Homo sapiens: one gene and its partner. The protein of the gene in region 2 interacts with the protein of the main gene of each other region in a biochemical or structural test. Each region holds a gene or a part of one and is shown on either strand. Other genes may lie near its edges.

Evidence for each region. The genes of interacting proteins can lie anywhere in the genome.
Region 1: the proteins of PPP1R12A (region 2) and CHEK2 form a complex in vitro, tested with the Homo sapiens proteins (one study listed by BioGRID).

The regions. Positions count from the first base shown.
Region 1 is NC_000022.11:28,735,221-28,738,820, forward strand, and holds part of CHEK2 (serine/threonine-protein kinase Chk2), read right to left. Parts: exon of another isoform or gene 2,064-3,600; coding exon of another isoform or gene 2,040-2,063; intron 1-2,039. UniProt on the Homo sapiens protein: Serine/threonine-protein kinase which is required for checkpoint-mediated cell cycle arrest, activation of DNA repair and apoptosis in response to the presence of DNA double-strand breaks.
Region 2 is NC_000012.12:79,774,339-79,778,310, forward strand, and holds part of PPP1R12A (protein phosphatase 1 regulatory subunit 12A), read right to left. Parts: intron 1,678-3,972; coding exon 1,591-1,677; 3' UTR 1-1,590. UniProt on the Homo sapiens protein: Key regulator of protein phosphatase 1C (PPP1C). Mediates binding to myosin. As part of the PPP1C complex, involved in dephosphorylation of PLK1. Capable of inhibiting HIF1AN-dependent suppression of HIF1A activity.

The DNA of each region.
Region 1 (3,600 bases), on a different chromosome or scaffold from region 2:
ATAGTGAAACTCCGTCTCTACTAAAAATACAAAAAATTAGCCAGGCGTGGTGGCGGGCACCTGTATTCTCAGCTACTCGGGAGGCTGAGGCAGGAGAATCGCTTGAGCCCGGGAGGCAGAGGTTGCAGTGAACCAAGATTGCACCACTGCACTCCAGCCTGGGCAACAGTGCAAGACTCCGTTTCAAAAAAAAAAACTCATATATACAGTCCTCAATTTAACAATGCTTCTATTTAACAATGTTTAGACTTTCTGTGAAAGCAATCAGTAGACACTTACTTCTCCAAGTCCTCACATAACCATTCTGGTTTTCACCTTCAGTACAGTATTCAAGTAATTACATGAGATATTTAACACCTTATTATAAAATAGGCCAGGTGGCCAGGTGCAGTGGCTCACACCTATAATCCCAGAACTCTGGGGGGTCAAGGCAGGTAGATCACCTGAGATCAGGAGTTCAAGACCAGCCTGGCCAACACAGTCAAACCCCGTGTCCACTAAAAATACAAAAATTAGCCGGGTGTGGTGGCAGGCGCCTGTAGTTCCAGCTACTCAGGAGGCTGAAGCAGGAGAATTGCTCGAGCCCAGGAGGCAGAGGTTGCACTGAGCTGAGATCGCGCCACTGCACTCCAGCCTGGGTGACAGGAGTGAAACCCTGTCTCAAAAAAATTAATTAATTAAATAAATAAAATTTTAAAATAAAATAAAATAGGCCAGGTGCAGTGACTCACAACTGTAAACCCAATATTTCGGGTGGTGGAGGTAGGAGGATTGCTTGAGGGCAGGTGTTTGAGACCCCACCTCTACAAAAAATAATAACAATAATCTTTGTGTTAGATAATTTTGCCCAACTGTACCCTGACATAAGTGTTCTGAGCATGTTTAAAGGAGGCTAGGCTAAACTATGACGTTTGGTATCTTAGGTGTATTAAATGTAATTTCAATTTAACAATATTTTCAACTTAGAATGGTTTTATTTAGACATAATGCCATTGAAAGTTGAGGAGCATCTGTGTACTTTGGAAAGCAAAAGAAGACAAAAAATCAGGTGGCTTGATATAAAAGTCAAAAAGAAATTGTACAATAACCTGCTGCATTACTCCAAAGGGTCCATTTACATAAAATGTCACTGGTACCCCTTTTCCCCCAGGCTTGCTCCTAAAGTGAAACACACCTGTTCGTTCAATCTATATTCCCTGACACCTAAGGACCCAGTGACTTAATGAGGCAGAACACAAAGGAAGACAGCTCTTAACAACTCCACCTATCCCTTTGTGATGCTAAATAACCATAGGGCTTATCTTTTCAGCATCCTAAATGGCCTTCCGGCCTTGATGTAATCTTGCAGGAACCATTCTTTTATAAACTGGAGACCGTAACAGAGGCTTCCACCCTTGTCTTAGAATTAACCTGATAGACAGTTAGACTGTCATAACAGGCTGGGTGCAGTGGCTCATACCTGTAATCCCAGCACTTTGGGAGGCCAAGGCAAGAGGACCACTTGAGGCCACGAGTTCAATACCAGCCTGGCCAACATAGTGGGACCCCCCCCGCCCCCCGTACAAAAAATAAGAAAATTAGACATGATGGCATGCAGCTGTGGGCTCAGCTACTCAGGAAGGTGAGGTGGGAGGATCACTTGAGCCCAGGAGTTGAAGGCTGCAGTGAGCTATGATCATACCACTTACATACCAGCCTGGGTGGCAGAGTGAGACCCTATCTCCAAAGAACAGAAAACAAACCAAGACTCTGATAACAGAACCACCAGTAAAATCAAAGTAACATCCACTGCTGACCTAATCGGATTAACAAAAAAAAGGGAGGGAGAGGAGGGCATTCTCTTCCTCCCCAAACTCAGGCTACTACTCTAGGAGAACATAGGAAACAACACTATAGTAGTCCCCACCATCAGAGGGGGATAAGATCCAAGACCCCCCAGTGGATGCCTGAAACCTCGCATAGTACAGAACCCTATATAAATTATGCACAACTTTCTTTTTCCTTCTTCACAATTTCACAAATAGAAGATTAGTTCTTACCATAGACGTTAGCAGCCTCAGCATACAAATTTTTTTATTTCCATATTAAATTGAGATCTTTCACCTTTTCAGTAAAAGGAAACACTTTACAGCTTCTCTTTACAATATCCAAATTGCCAGCATCTTTTGCTTTGGGGCCATTATTAAATATAAGGGTGACATGAACACAAGCACTGCAAAACCATGTAATTTAAGACTTATGAACTGATTATTTCTTTTTTTTTTTTTTTTTGAAACGGAGTCTCAGTCACCCAGGCTGGAGTGCAGTGGCACAATTTTGGCTCATTGCAACCTCCACCTCCTGGGTTCAAGCAATTCTCCTGCTTCAGCCTTCCAAGTAGTTGGGATTACAGGCGCACACCACCATGCCCGGCTAATTTGTATATTTTTTTTAGTAGAGACAGGGTTTTCACCGTATTGGCCAGCCTGGTCTCAAACTGCAGACCTCAGGTGATCCTCAGGTCCACCTCAGCCTCCCAAACTGCTAGGATTACAGGCCTGAGCCACCATGCCCAGCCATGAATTGACTATTTCTTATGAATTTTCCACTTAATAGTTTCAGATCGCAGCTGACCATTGGTAAGTGAAACTACTACCGCTGATAAGGAGGGACTAAGATACCCACACTGATTGTATTTACACAGCTTTCAAGATACAAAGGTTCTGCCAGGTGTGGTGGTTCATGTCTGTAATCCCAGCACTTTGGGAGGCCAACGCAGGTAGATTGCTTGAGCCCAGGAATTCAAGACCAGCCTGGGCACCATGGTGAAATCCAGTATCTACAGAAAATACAAAAAATTAGCAGGGCATGGTGGTGTGCACCTGTAGTCCCAGCTACTTGGGAAGCTGAGGTGGGAGGATCACTTGAGTCCAGGAGGTTGAGGCTGCAGTGAGCCGTGATCGAGCCTGCACTCCAGCCTGGGTGACAGAGCGAGACCCTGTCTCAAGGAAAATAAAAAAGATACAAAGGTTCTGATGAGTTTTCTTTAAAACATACCAGGAAGGCAATGCCAAAACTGAGTATGCCACACCAGGGACTGCTGGTCTAATACTACCTGAGCCAGGCTGAGTCTTCCCCACAGCTTTTTAAGCAAGACAGGACAACTGGAGAAAATGTGTCAACAAGTTACTATGAGAGATTAGAGGCAAGCGGATCTGGAGTCAGACACTTGAGTGAAACTGTGCATGACTTTAGGTAGATCACAACTTCTCTAAACCTGTTTTCTCATCTGAAAATAAGTAGACAGACCATGAGGATTAAGTGAAGTGACGCATGTAATACTCCCCCCACCCACCCATGCTTGCTATCTGGGAGCTATTGCTATTGGAAAGCCATGCAGAGAAGTGAGTGAAAAACCAAAGTGAGGGCAGCAAAACTCCAGGACTGTAGACAGAAATCCAGTCCCAAAACCTATAAAACTACTAGAAGAAAACACTGGGGAAGTGCTCCAGGACACTCATCTTGGGCACAGGTTTTTTGGGCACAGGGTTTTTACGTAAGACCTCAAAAGCACAGGCAACTAAAGCAAAAACAGACAACTGGGATTTCATCAAGCTAAAA
Region 2 (3,972 bases):
CCTTCCCCAACCCCAAAGTAATCTAAAATAGGCAGTAGAACACAATGACCTTTTAAAATGAAGGGGTACAAATTCACATTTAATATAGTATACAATACAATCAATAATACAATCAGCTACTATAAGCTTTACAATGTACAATTTATTCAAATGGCTGAACTGTTCAGTGGTTAAGGAGACAGTTATGTGCCAGAAAGATGTAGTATTTTTTGCATGGTTTAATGAAAATATAAAAGCTATTTGTCCAAATAAAAGCCATCGTCACTATGTACTTGGTTTTGCGCTTTTTTTTCCTTAAAAAAAAAAAAAGGCCACTGAAATGTATAAAATGGTCTGAACATGATGGTGGTATCAAAGTCGATGCCTCTTCACATGGCAATAACAGTGCATTTAACATTAACTCACGGGTTAATTCTGCAAATGATTTCATAGCATTACTTTGGCTAGCACAACAGTTTTAGACAGCACTCAGATAAATATAGGTATGTGAAATGTAAAGCAATTATCTTATGCAACTTTAATTATGGTTGAGTACTATCAAGTGAAAACTGAAAATAAAAGCACTTTACAGTAGGAAACTTTTGTAAAGATAGGGCTCCACATAATGTGTAACTTTTAAAGTCTTTATATCACATTGTTAGCAAATTTTGTTTTTTAACACTATCATGGAGTAGCCTACTCTGCATTAGCAGACATTTGAAATAAGAAATAGTCAAGCATGCCATGTGGTGGTCTAAAAATCAAAACAATACACTTATTTGTATATACAGCATCACTCAGTACCTGCTAAAATGAATGTGAAGATTACAGAATCTAACATCTTATACTACAATAAAAAAAAAGTGACCAATGAAGCAGAAAATAGGAATTAAAAGATCTAACCTCAAATGACTTTAAAGCATTCATATAAGAAATAAATGCATATTGCACAAACAGTGAAAGCATATGTTCCACCAAGCAATTCAGTTCCAGGTGGGAGACAACACAGCATTAGCCTAATACATGACAATAATCACAGAAGAGCAAGTGTTCTTTTCTGTAATGAAAAAGCTGTGAAAACATAGAAGACTCTGCCACATGAAGAGTTTAGAAGGAAAAAATACAAACCCAAACTTAGATGAAAAGCCAAAAAATTTAAATATCGAAAAACTCGAAACTGTGGCACATCAAAAAATGTTGAGTAACTGTCTTCTGTGAGAGCTGAAAGTTTTTGTTGACACAAAAGTATTTATGTACAACTAAGGCTTACTGGTTAAATATCTGAGGCATATCTGGCCTTGAACACTTTCCTTATATGCTGGAGCTGTAAACAAGTTTTCTCAGTCATTAAAAAAAAATCTTCTCAGCAGCTGCATTAACATGAAACAATGGTCTTGATTAAAAAAAAAAAACAAAAAACAAACCAACAACAACAAAAACACCCCAGAAAATTAAACAAAATGAAACAAAAATTCTAGATAAGAGGGCATTTGGCAGGATATCCGAAAATGACAGTCTCCAAGGATTCTTCCCAGACTTCCAGTGACTGCCAATTATGGTCCACTGGGTTACTAATATGTGCAATTCCATTACTTGCTGCTTTTTTTTTTTTTATTTGGAAAGTTTGCTTATAACTCTGATCAAGGCCCCATTTTCATCCTTTAGCCTCTGGTTGTCTGCTTTTAGGTCTGGTAACATCTATAAAGAGAAAAATTGAAGATCAAGTTTTACCTTCAATATTAAAAGATAAAACATTATTCTTAATAAATGTTATATTTTCACCACAAAACACATGATCAAGCTTTGTCAGTTATATATATTTCTAGTATCTAAAACATGTATCAGGAAGAAGGAAAAAAACCACACCTGGATTTGTAAAGCTAATTAGTTTCATAAATGCTGGAATGAAAGGTTTATTCTCTCCAAATTTTCCATTGAAATTTACTAAATCACTTGATTTTATGACTCACAAGCACACCACATTCCAGCAGCCAAGACAAGCCTGTTTTTGTTAGGATAGGCTCTTAAAAGAGGTTCCTGTCAGCACCTAAACCAAAGACTTTTGCTTTTATGTATGTCAGACCTAAAATCATAATACTTAATATTGTTCCACAAGAAAGTCAAACTACCTAGGAAAACATTGAGGAAATTAGACTTGTTCTAAATTATTAAAATTCCTTAAACGATTCACCTACAGTAGCTCAGTTTAAAATGCCTAAACAATGTCCGATCCCAGATAGATGCTTATTAAATGGTAACAAGCAATTACTATTATTAGAATAGTGCATCATGTTTAAGCTAAAGTAGAAAGTCTGTATCTATGATCCAACTATTACAAAAATAACCAATTTTGAAGCAAATAGCCTCATATCTTCAAACAACACATCTCAATTTTCTGTTGTTTTACAGACAAATTGATGAAGGGGTGAAAATATTACAAGTTAACTGAATACTCTACTAAGGATGATTAAAACTGTATGTTCTTTGCCAGTTTCACTAGGAAATGAAATAGCTCATATTTTTGGTCCCTAAACCATACTTTCCAAAATAGTCCTCTTTCCTCAGTTTTCAAAATGTATTAGTTTATCTAACTTGATAAAAGTAAAACTTCTATTTGCAAAACTAGGTAAAGCAAAATCTTTAAGAAGATTTAATTTTACGTGGAACCAATATGTTCTTATCTGTGTTCAGAATCTTTAAGATATAAAATATAGTAATATTAAGTTTATTCATTTGAATATTTGTAATATAAACTTAAATATAAACTAATGTGGTTCTGACTTCAAATGACATTATTTTGAAAAACATAATGCATGCTTAATCTTCAGCTTCAAAATATATTAATTATATGTAAAATGTTATATACTGTTGGTTTTCTCTCTAGTAAAGAACTGTAAATAATAGTCATATTTTAAGTCCTAAAATATCTGTATAGCTAAAAAATGTGCAAAAGCTTTACAAAAGTACAGATAAGTCTTTAACTTAAATTCCAAAATCATCCCTAATTTTAATGTAGCTCATCAATTGCAATATACAATTAGTGACAATTTCTAACATTCTAAGAAGCCATGCATAATTAGTTATATGATATGCTCCAGACACAATGGCATTAATTTGTAAAAGTGAGCTCTTACAAAACACGCCTACTAATATAAAAACACCTGCCTGGCTCTACCAAGAAGAAATGATGAAACTAAAAATTATAGGTTCACAGACTGCAGTTGCCTATAGAACCCTGAGCGCTTGGCTACCACTCTTGTCAAGGCCCTATTCTCAGTCAGCAGTCGCTCATTTAACTCCCTCAGAGATTGAATTTGCTTTATTTGGTGCAGGTTCTGCAGGAATCAGAACATAAAGAAATAGGAATAAAAAATAAGAAAATGGAAAAGAGTATAATAAGAATGTAATCACAGGTAATTTTTTAAAAATATTACGTCTTAAAGGAACAAGAGATTCAGAAAGGTAAACACTGTATTCCTAAAATTCTATTTCAAACTAAGTAATACATAAGCAAACAAAATACAAAAGATTTGTCTCCAATCTTCAAAGCCATTCAATAATGGTCTAATAACAAACCAAACAATTTAATAATGAAATATCTAAATCTTGAACTTCTAATTCTGTGGGTACAATATACTTACTATGCACTGGTTCATTAATTCACAATGTGATAAAGATTTTATGAAGGACAGTGTGGTAAGAGGTAATCAATTAACTATGCTACTTGTGAAGACATTCAAAACATAATTATTTCTATAGGTAATATGGAGTTTGATAAAATACAGCTCTGCCTGTTCACTCCCCTAATGTCCTTTACTTTCAAAGGAGAACATTTTATAGTAACCCCCTCCACTACTTACTCGCCAAAAAACATGAAAGTATATAGAAACATAAAGAATAAATAATAAATCCTACATCTTATTATTATTGTCTAACTTTTTCTATACCTGAACAGCAAAAGTGCTACACAAATTAATTATCAAAATAATTCGG